4 separate regions of the Homo sapiens genome follow, and regions 1, 2 and 3 are each linked to region 4. Evidence: fine-mapped expression QTL. A gene starts in region 4. Each other region holds a variant in brackets. All regions are shown on one strand. Distances are between the middles of the regions. Region 1 overlaps ARHGEF10L (Rho guanine nucleotide exchange factor 10 like). Region 2 overlaps ARHGEF10L (Rho guanine nucleotide exchange factor 10 like). Region 3 overlaps ARHGEF10L (Rho guanine nucleotide exchange factor 10 like). Region 4 holds the start of ARHGEF10L (Rho guanine nucleotide exchange factor 10 like).

Region 1 (2,677 bases), 90 kb before region 4:
TAAAGGGGATTTTTTTCTGGGAGGGAGGGAGGATATTCAGCAAAATTCATTCCCAAAACCCGTGACTCTGACGACAACCATTACTCTCCCCTTCCTTCCCCATCCTGTCTGGGAAAAGGACAGATCACCCCGAGCCTCCCCGGGACATAAAAGGACAGATCACCCTGAGCCTCCCCAAAGAGAAAAAGACAGATCACCCCCAGGCAACCCCAGGACAGAAAAGGACAGATCACTCTGAGCCTCCCCAGAGAGAAAAAGATAGATCACCCCCGGGCATCCCCAGGACAGAAAAGGACAGATCACCCCGAGCATCCCCAGGAGAGAAAAGGACAGAACACCCTGAGCCTCCCCAGAGAGAAAAACACAGATCACCCCCAGGCATCCCCAGGAGAGAAAAGGACAGATCACCCCGAGCCTCCTCGGGAGAGAATGCTGTTGTTCTCCAAAGCATCATCTCTCTCAAGTCGGCACACAACCAAAAGTCCCAGTGGGACCAAATGCCCAGGGTGTGCCAGGCACTGAGGATGGCTCTTAATATTCCACATCTCATTGAATCAGCTCAGCGGTCCTTGAGGCCATCCCCATTGCCCAGGTGAGGAAACTGAGATTCCAGGGGTAAAGTGACTCGCTGAGACCCACCCACTGTTGATTGACAGCACAGGACAGAGCCAGGCCACGTTCACCATTCCCTGCATTGAGCAGCTAGTGCACAGTGTGACAGGAGCCAGGGGAGGCCCCACCGCTCCTAACATGCAGGAGGACTTGGGGTCCCCCACAGCTGCTAAGGCCAGGCTCCGCCTCACTATTTCCACAAGGAAACCAAACGCCAACTCAAGAGACCACTACTCGGACCTTGAAGACAGCAGGGCCCCCCGCCCCAAGGGCTGCCAAATGTGCCATGACCCAAAACTTGGAAGAGGAAAGTCCCGTGGGCTCTGGCAGTCAGCGCTGCCCCCTTGGCAGATGAAAACCAACAAAAAGAAAAAGAAAACCAGGATATTGCACAAA[C/T]GGCCCTCTGGAGGCTCCTGCCTAGGCTATTTTGAAACAGCTGGCATGGTTCCGTTTCGGGTTACACCCAGTTTCGTTTCTGCTTCTCCCTGGGTGATGGTGATAGGGACATCACTAAACAGGTCACAGAACTGGCCAGGACTGTCCAGGGAGGGCCCTGGAGGGGGAAGCCCAGGGTGCGGCCTCCACCACACTCTTCCTAACATCTCACATGGTCCAACCTACCCTCACCCAGCAAATGGAGACATGGAAGCTTAGAGCCTCTAGTCCTTTGCCCAGCATCAAAGAGGTCTCCCTTACCTCCAGCCAGGGCCCACCTCACAGAGCAGGAGAGGGCAGAACGGCTCTTCCCAACCACTACGGAATTTATTTCCTCCTCCCAAGAGGCCTCTCCCCACTGTGGCTGCACAGGTGTATGAGGCAAAGCAAGAGAAAGCCTCTTGGTCACCGAAGAGGGAGCCGAAGGTGGGGAGAGGAGAAGATTCCTGAGCGCAAAGGCCAGCACGGGTGGTCATGGCGGGGCTGAAGGCTTTTTCTCCCGAGACATTCCAAACTCGAGGCTTGTGTGGGGGATGGCTGAGTTAGTCCTGCCTGGAACCAGGGGGTGGAGAGTGACCCTGCCCCTCATGCCCAACCTGAGCCACGTGGATGGGGACATCCCCAGGAGAGGGCGCTGTCCCCTCCCCATCTCGTCTTCCCCAGCCCAATCCTCCTGGAGCAGGTAAAATAAACTCAGATGCCTTAGGGGCTTGCAGGTAACATCAGTGGGAAAGGTGGGTAGGAACCAAGGGGAAGTGGGCAGCTGCCACTCGGGGGCTGGTGCCACGTGGGAAGGTGGGTCGGTGAGCCAGCTCTTCCTACCCTCCCAGGAGACCCACAAGTCTGAATTTTATAGGATCTCTCTCAATTTTTAAATGTTGGCAACTACTGCCATGTTCTTAAAACTACTGTGTGGGCCGGGCACCGTGGCTCATGCCTGTGATCCCAACACTTTGGGAGGCTGAGGCAGGAGGATCACTTGATCCCAGGAGTTTGAGACCAGCCTGGGCATCATAGTGAGACCCCATCTCTACAAAAAAAAAAAAAAAATTAATTAGCTGGGTGTGGTAGCTCGTGCTTGTAGTCCCAGCTACTCAAGAGGCTGAGGCAGGAGGCTCACTTGAGCCCAGGAGCTCAAGGCTGCAGTGAGCCGTTATTGTACCACTGTACTCCAGCCTGGGCAACAGCATGAGGCCCTGTCTCAAAATAAAATTAAATTAAATAGAATAAAATACTGTGTGGGCCACAACACAACCTGCAACCTGAATTTGGCCTGAAGCAACAGAGTCCTAAGATGTGGGTTGCCTGAAGCTTGGCACTGCAGGGGACCCTACAGGAGGCCTTGTCCCTGCCCCACTTCACAGGCATGGGGTGGAAAGCAAAGATGCTGATGCAGGTTAGACAGCATTCTATACTGTAAAGTGCAGCACACATGGAAAGGGCCACTCTCCCTCTGGGTACTCCTTCCTGGACTCTTAGAAAGGTCTACCCCGTGCTGCTGAAACCTCCCTCCTGGGAACAGCCAGCCATAGGCCTTAGTTCTGCTTCTAGGACCCCACAGAGCCAAGAGGCTCCCAGTTTATTCCCCAGAAAATTTGAACCTCTCCCTATGACCTCACACAGTATCCGT
Region 2 (2,677 bases), 85 kb before region 4:
GGCCAGCCCCTGCCCAAGGACCCTCAGTGGTTGGGACAGTGTCCCAAGCTCTCCAGGACCCTGTGTGGGGCTAATGTCCCTTAGGAATCCCCTGTTCTGAAGCTCGAATCTGAAATGGCCAAGCTCAGCATGTTTACTGAGCATCTCCTCCATGCCAGGAGCCCTGCGGGTCCCGGGATTCCCTGTGCCTTCACTCCCTTCCTGCAACCCAGACTCAGGCCACCAGCAGTCCCTCAGCGTCCCCCACAGAGGGGCGTGCAAACTGAGCTGTCAGTTACAATCAATTTCACTCTAGAAGTGGAGAAAGATGAGGCCAGAGTCCCACAGCAGGTTGGGTGGGTTATGGATCACGGACAAGAGCCCAGACCTCCTCCCTCCTACCCCAGGAGGCACCTCCCAGCCCACAGGCAAACCCTGTGGGTTGAAGCTGCTGGAATCCTGAGCAGTACCTGAAGCAGGAGTATGAACTGTGGGAACCTCTGGATGGGCTTGACCATCAGCCCGTAGAGGGTGACACGGTCTGGGCTGCACACCTGCCGTCGCTGGTGGAGACAAGGTTCCGTCATTCGCTGACCCCCTGCAGAGAGGGCCCAGTGCCCCAGAGTCCAGACACTGTCCCCATTCTGGGCTCCTCTCCCCAGGCCCTAAGACCCTGCCTATCCCTGGGCTTGCAAGAAGAGCTGAGAGAGGTCCGTGGTTCTGCAGCCAGGGATCCCTCTCCCACCAGTGCCCCTGCATGGCCGCGCACCCTCAGGAGACTAAAGCAGTCATCTTAAGGTCTCTGAACTAAAGGCATAACTGGGAAACTCAGCAATTTATTCAAGATGTCAGACTTCTAGAAGTGGCCAAGGCAACCATTCCCTCCACTTAAACTAAATGCAGACAGATTTGGGCTAGGGTAAGGGGCGGGGCACAGGGGGACCTTCTGTCCTGTCTCTTGCATCCATCCCCCACTCCATCCACACACCTGTTACCTGGTCCTGGCCCCCATATGCTGCAATCCCACAGTTTCTCCACCTGCCTCCACTTCCATCTACCCTAGCTCAAAATCCTTCAATGGCTCCCCATTACCTGAAATATTACATCCTAGGCCCTGGGCCTGGAGGTCTAGAACCACCCAACTGAACTCAGCCGCCTCTTAGTGTGCACACTCAGGCCTTCTCTCCTGGGACTCCCCAACAGGCATCAGTGCTCCCAGAATCCAAACAGACCTGCCCATCCCTCTCCTCCTGCCTCTAACCTTTGCTCCACTATCCTTACACCTGATATAGGCTCTCCTCTGTCTTTATTTGGCACAATCCCACCATCCCC[C/T]GCCAGGGCCCATGTCAGATGGTGGCTCCTCCTGATCCCCTGTTCTCTTTGATGGGGACAGTGGGTTCCTCCACTGAGGCCGTGGCATCTAACCTGTGCTGCCGGCACATGTGTGCGTGTCCTGGCACCTAGCCCAGTTGCATCCTCTGCCAGCCAGCAGGCTCCCTACAGGCAGGGGCTCTGACTCACCAGACTACACTCCCAAAGAAATCAGCAGAGGCTGGGCACATGAGAACTCAGAAGCTTTTCGAAGCCTTTAACCTTTACTCTCCCAAGCAATGCCCAAGATACCCCTATAAGGAATTTCCTCACCCTTTTATAAATGAGGAAAAGGAACCAGCTTAGCAACCCGGGAGCCACAGCCCACCACAGGGCCAGCCAGGCAGACCCACCCACTCACCAGGGCACAGGAGGCAAAGGGTCAGCAAGATGACACAGGTCTTCCCTCCACCCTGCCAAAGCTCCAGGATCCCAGTTGCTTACAGACACTTGGCTACGCTCCTCCCAGGGGCAGGAGGGAACGATTTTCTTCCCATGGGACTGGGCTGCCCCAAAAGAAAGAGGGGAGCTGTCCAGGCCAAAGCTATGATGTCATACCCAAAGCTGGGGCCAAAATGCTCCCTTCCTCCTGAGCAATCTCCCTGCCCACCCTGACCAGGCACGGTACCACCATGGAGGCCCACCTTGAGGAACTCGAGGAAGGCAGGCTTGGTGAGGCAGGCCTTCTTGATGATGGACATGGCACTGGTGAAGTTGTTCACGTAGTCACTGTACACATCTAGCACCATGGACTTGGAAAACTGAAACAAGGCAGGTGTGGGCCAGGGAGACCGCCTCAATGCAGGGAGCAGAAGGAAACGAGGCAGGTGTGGGCCAGGGAGGCCGCCTCAAGGCAGGGAGCAGAAGGGCGCCTGCACTCACCCCACACTCCCTTGGGACCTCGAGCTGTGCAAATCCATCACCCCCACTGGGGTGTGGACATGGAGCTCAGAGAGGTAGAGAGGCTGGCCTGAGGTCACAGGTGGGATGGGGTGGTGCCACAGGAGAGCCCAGGGGACCTTCGCCTCCCAGGTCTCCATCCCCAGTGCAGCAGCCCAAGCCCACAGGTGGAGGGAGGAGAAGGGCAGGGGGAACACCCCTTCTACTGCATTCACGTTCAGGAAATCGAATGCCCCTTGCCCTCCACCTTTAAGGAAAGTGCTCCTGGCCTCTCACCGGGCAGCGTGCCCAGAGTTGAGTTACCAAGGGAGGGATGGTCGGCCTGGAGTCAATCAACTCTCTCTCCAGAGCCCCTTGATATACACCCAGAACATCAGACCTATTCAGTGACTCTATCGAGCGCTGTGGCTTTCAAAAAAAAGTTTTT
Region 3 (2,677 bases), 60 kb before region 4:
ACAAGAATCACTTGAACCCAGAAGAGGAAGGTTGCAGTGACCCAAGATCATGCCACTACACTCCAGCCTGGATGACAAAACAACACTCCATCAAAAAAAGGAAAAAGAAACAAGACTTGCAAAGCTTCAAAAGACTGTAAGTGGGAGGTAGAGCTTAGTCCCTCATGCACACTTGAGGATGGGCTGGCCCAGTGAGTCCCTTCCACAGAGCAGACATGCAAATGGGAAACAGCAGAGGAGCCCAGCAGACACGTCCCGAACCAAGAGACCCAGGTGAGCATCTGTAGAGACGCCACGCAGGTGCCATGTGTCCTGATAAGACGTCATGAAATGGGTACTTCACCTCCATGGTGTTTTTATCCAAAACGCATAACCCCAGTCTAATCACAGAGAAGACACCAGACAAAATCGGAGTGGGGAACATTGTACCGAATACCTGGCATTACTCCTCAAGACTCTTTTTGTTTTTTTAGAGTTTTTTGTTTTTTGTTTTTTTTTTTTTTTTTTTGAGACAGAGCCTCGCTCTGTCGCCCAGGCTTCAGGGCGGTGGTGCGATCTCGGCTCACTGCAACCTCTGCCTCCCGGGTTCAAGCAATCCTCCCACCTCAGTCTCCCAAGTAGCTGGAATTACAGGCATGCGCCACCACACCCAGCTAATTTTTGCACTTTTGGTAGAGATGGGGTTTCACCATGTTGGCCAGGTTGGTCTCAAACTCCTGAACTCAAGTGATCCACCCACCTCAGCCTCCCAAAGTGCTGGGATTACAGGAGTGAGTCACCGCACCTAAACATCACTCCTCAATATTCTCAAGGTCTTGGAAATCAAGGAAAGACTGAGAAACTGCCACGGGCTGGAGCAGGCTACAGAGACATGACAGTTAAGCGCAACGTGGGATCCCAGATTGGATCCTGGGTCAAAAAATAAACATAAGTAGGAAAACTGATGAAATCCACACAAAATCTGTTTAGTGAATGGTAATGTGCCAACGTAGGTCTCAGCTTTGACAACTGTGCCAAGGCCATGTGAGATGCTCATAGCAGGGAAGCTGGATGAGGGGTATGTGGAGCTCTATGTTCCCTCTTCAGAACATCTCTGAAAATCTAAAGCTATTCTAACGTGAATTTTTTTGAAGTCCAGGTTCAAAAAAACAAAACAAAGACCAAAGACCACTTATGCCAACCTAGAGGGCAGAGGCCTTAGACTGTCAAGAGAACAGCACCGTTGCCAAAGAATCAACTTGAACTTCCCTTCCTGGCACCCGAGCCTGTAGCAGATGAAGAGTAGGACAGGGCAGGGGAAGAGGGAGGGGAGGAGGCTGCGAGGAGGGATCTCTGCTGTTGAGCACCTCCTGTGAGCCAGGCCCTCTGCCTCACCTTCCCAGCACCACACAGGATCCTGGCATCTTCTGCATTCTGCAGGGAAGTAGAAGAACCTGCCCAAGATCACTCTGCCAGGGAGTGGCAGGGCCAGACCATGAGGCCAGCTTGTCTAGCTCCCAAGCTGGGCTCTGAGTGCCACCCTCCACTGCCTCTCAGATAATAAGCAGAGCGGTGGTGGTGG[C/T]GAGAATGCTCCTGCCTGTCCTATCCGGTGCAGCAGCCACCAGCCACGTGGCTATTGAGCACTTGACATGTGGCTAGTGGGACTAAGGAACTTAATTTTTAACTCTATTTGATTTCAAGTAATTTAATTTTAAATAGCTACACATGACTAGTGGCCACTGGACTGGGTGGTGCAGGTCTAAGTCACCTGCCCTATTAGAGGAGCAAGTGTCAGCTCACATTTCACTGCCAGAAGTCAACAGTGTCACCCCAGGGCAAGGAAGGCAGCACATTTGGTCCTGGGGAGACACTTTCCACCAATGACAGGAAGTAAAGGCCAAGAGAGGACAGGGCTTCTCTGGACCAGGAAGGTGGGTGATGGGCTGATGGGAGCCACCTGAACCCCGATTTCTAACAGCTGCTTCGCTGAGCCGCCACCTCCTCAACACAGAAACATCCTGAAGGCGCCACATCAGTTGCTCGGAATTGCTCAGACAGAACCAAACTCTTCCGGCTGGAACAGACGTGAGCTTAGAAGAGGTTGGCTGGACAGTCTCCCGGCCACAGGTCCTCTTTGCTCTGATATGTGGCCATGACAGTGACCGTGACAAAGCATCCGCCATGCACTGCTTGCTCTGCTTTACATGTAATTGCACGTTTTTTTTTTCTTTTTCTTTTTTTTTTTTTGACAGTCTCACTTGGTCACCCAGGCTGGAGTGCAGCAGCACGATCTCAGCTCACTGCAACCTCTACCTCCTGGATTTAAGCAATTCTCCCATCTTAGCCTTCCAAGTAGATGGGACTACAGGCACGCGCCACTATGCCCACCTAATTTTTGTATTTTTAGTAGAGATGGGGTTTCGCCACGTTGGCCAGGCTGGTCTCGAACTCCTGACCTCAGGTGATCTGCCCACCTTGGCCTCCCAAAGTGCTGGGAGTGAGCCTACAAGCCCGACCTGCACATTTAATTTTGCAGGAACACACCGGAGGCAGGTGTTGTTACCCCTATTCTACAGGTGGGGAAACTGAGCCTCACAAAGTTTCAATTACCCAGAAATCACTCAGCTAATTAGTGGGAGCTGGGATCTTACACTACGTCTACCTGCAAAGCTTCTATTGTTTCAACCAGACCACCTGG
Region 4 (2,677 bases):
CAGGGGGCCTCAGGAAGGCAAGCGCCTGGGGACAGAGCGAGCATCAGATTCGGGCACCCCAGGAAGCCTTCCTTACAGGAGGGTTCTGAGCTTCAGCCTGAGGGCCCGATGAAGGGGAAGGGCAGTCCCCAGCCCACAGTCACAGGGAGCTTGGAGATTTCCGGAGGCTGACCTGCTTTCTAGTCTGTGTGTCCAGGGCCTGAACACCGTGGGGGGCACAGTGCTGGGCGGATGCTGGGAAGAGCTATGCATTCTAATGAGCCCGCACAACCTGCCCTCTCTCCCCAGAACCCGAGGAGGAGCAGATGGGGCTCCCGGCAGGTGGGGCGTGGCTTCCCAGTAGCATCCTTAAGGGAGGCCAAGGACTCTGGGGCAGAAACTGAGCTCCAAAGCCAGTGGGAAAGTGCAGCCCACCAGCCACCACCTCTCTACTTGGCACTGATGCAACGCAGGGCCTCCTGGCTTTCAGGGCCAAAGGAAGATTCGAGACCCCCGCCCCAGGGCCCCGCTTTGGCAGAGGGAGGAAGAATTGTCCCCATGCCCCCTACAGTCAGGCCTGCTCTCCCTCTCGGAGGCCATCCCAGCGACTCCAGGGGGGCTGGTCTTCATCTAGGGCCCTCCCTGACATATATCCCTGTTCCAGGGAGGATCCGGGACTGGCGGCTCCGCAGCCACGGCCTCCGGCTGACCCGGCATCCTCTCCTCCCACAGTCTCCTCCTGCAGGAGGCCGTCCCGTTCCGCCTCTGGGCGGGGGTCCAGGGTGGGAGAGGCTGACTCACCACAGAGGCGACAGGGGCACTCCCTGACTTCACCCGATCCCAGGGACCCCCAAGGTCAGCGCAGGAAGAAGTGGACCACAGGGGAAAGTGAGGCACAGGGTGGGGGTGGGGGTTCCCAAACTGTCCTGACTCCAGCCGGCTGGAGGCCACACACACACACAAGCTGAAGCACAAAGGCCACTCGCCCTAGTAACACCAGAACTCCAGTGACACAAGGAGAGACCCACACAGAGGGGAGACGCGGGCTCGGGGCTCTCACACCCAGACACAGGGACACAGCGGCGGACACGGCCCCCGCCCGCCCACGGCGACACGCCCAGGACACCCGGAGGACCCTGGCGCCTGGAGCGCCTCCCGCGCACTCGCAGACTCCGGCACACGCGAGGATCCCGCGGAGGCAGGGCCCCCGCGCTCACTCACCCACCTCGGCTGCCCGGGCCCGCGCCTTTGTCGTCCGCGCCGCTCACAAAGGCGCCTGGCGGCCGGCGCCGCGCCTCCAGCTCCGCAGGCCGCCGCGGGCGCCCATGGCCGGGACGGCGCCCCCACCGCCGCAGCCGCCGCCACCCGAGCCAATGGCCGCGCCGCCCGCCCGCCCGCGAGGTCCGGGCCCGCCGGGACTGCGCCCGCGCCCGCCGCGCTCCGAGGCCTGGTCCCGCCGCCGCCGCCGTGCGCGACGCGGCGCCGCCCCCGCCCGCCCGGTCCCGGGGCGCCGCGGCTGAGGTCACCGCTTAACCCCTGGTGGCCGGGGCAGCGGCCGCCGCGCCCCCTCCCTGCTCCCAGCGCGCCGCGAGGGAGACGTGGCCTCCCCCGACCCGCTGCGAGCCCCCAGCGGTCCCGGCAGCCCACCGGCCCCCCACAGTACAGGGGGGAAACTGAGGCCCGCGGGGATGGGGCCCGGCCCCGGCCACACGGCGACCTCCTCGCTCCTTCACCTACCCCGGGGTCCCCACTTCCCGCCTCCCGGTTCTCCTTCCCCGGTTCTCCGCGGGGAGACCCCGCAGGCGCGCAGGGTGCTGGCTTCTCCTCCCCCACTTCAACATTTTGCCCTGAGGTTCCCCCAAAAGGGTGAGAATCCTGGACCGGCCCCAGGGGAAACCCTAGACTTATGACCTGCCCCTCAACCAGTCTTGGCGGCCCCGTATTGCCCCCCACCCCCGCCATGGCAACATGGGGAACCTTGCAGCCATGCAGCCAAACCTCCAAGAACAACCCTGGCGGGTTCAGGCATTGACGGCTTTGAGACCGGCAACACCCCAGTGATGTAGCCCCATTTTCCCTAGGAGAAAACTGAGGCTCAGAACTGAGAGTAACTTGGCAAAGCTCACTGAGCAGCAAAGTGCTGAGACTGAGATCCTAGCATTCCCCTGCCTTTGCAGCTCCAAAGCTGCCAAACACTAGGTACTCCCTCCTGAAATTCCAAAGAGGGCCTCTGGATATGATGCAATTAATTACAGTTATCAGGTCATTAATTAAGATTATCCGCGTTGTTGTTAAACACTCCCCCGCTACCCCTCTATTTGCAAGGAAATTCACACGCGGGCTTATCAGCAATTACTCCTGGGTTGATAATGATAAGTTCTGCAGCCTCCAAAGGGTACAGGTGCACGTAGGTTGAAATCATTTTCAGCTTGTGTTCCTTACAGCCCACAGCCAGCAAAAACTTTTTTTTTTTTTTTTTTTTAACTACTCCCTATTTGTCAGGCACCAGCCTCAGGGGCTACCAGTGAGACAAAGAACCAGACAGACCCCAGCCCCGCCCCCTCGGAGCTCATAGGCTTAGGAGAAGACGCAAATAAACAAACGGCTACAGTGCAGTGAGACAAGCCACACAGGCCACGCACTGAAATCATCTTATTCACCGACTTGTTGGTTTGTTTATTGTCCCTCTCGACACAAG

The links.
Region 1: its variant is fine-mapped to the expression of ARHGEF10L in whole blood (TOPMed, PIP above 0.99). The same link has a PIP of 0.9 or more in blood mononuclear cells.
Region 2: its variant is fine-mapped to the expression of ARHGEF10L in whole blood (TOPMed, PIP 0.97).
Region 3: its variant is fine-mapped to the expression of ARHGEF10L in whole blood (INTERVAL, PIP 0.95).

The regions. Positions count from the first base shown.
Region 1 is chr1:17,628,612-17,631,288 of GRCh38, reverse strand. All of the region lies in intron 15 of ARHGEF10L (Rho guanine nucleotide exchange factor 10 like), which reads right to left. Among named protein-coding and RNA genes, the nearest start is that of LINC02810, 88 kb to the left of the region's middle. RefSeq lists enhancers at 494-1,145, 1,146-1,799. The variant C/T (reference allele first, on the strand shown) is at 1,009.
Region 2 is chr1:17,623,821-17,626,497 of GRCh38, reverse strand. ARHGEF10L (Rho guanine nucleotide exchange factor 10 like) reads right to left here. Exons shown (of 29, transcript NM_018125.4): 13 at 1,995-2,111; 14 at 450-542. Among named protein-coding and RNA genes, the nearest start is that of ARHGEF10L, 85 kb to the right of the region's middle. The variant C/T (reference allele first, on the strand shown) is at 1,312.
Region 3 is chr1:17,598,881-17,601,557 of GRCh38, reverse strand. The region is part of intron 4 of ARHGEF10L (Rho guanine nucleotide exchange factor 10 like); the gene reads right to left. Among named protein-coding and RNA genes, the nearest start is that of ARHGEF10L, 61 kb to the right of the region's middle. The variant C/T (reference allele first, on the strand shown) is at 1,562.
Region 4 is chr1:17,538,478-17,541,154 of GRCh38, reverse strand. ARHGEF10L (Rho guanine nucleotide exchange factor 10 like) reads right to left here and starts at 1,457. Exons shown (of 29, transcript NM_018125.4): 1 at 1,205-1,457.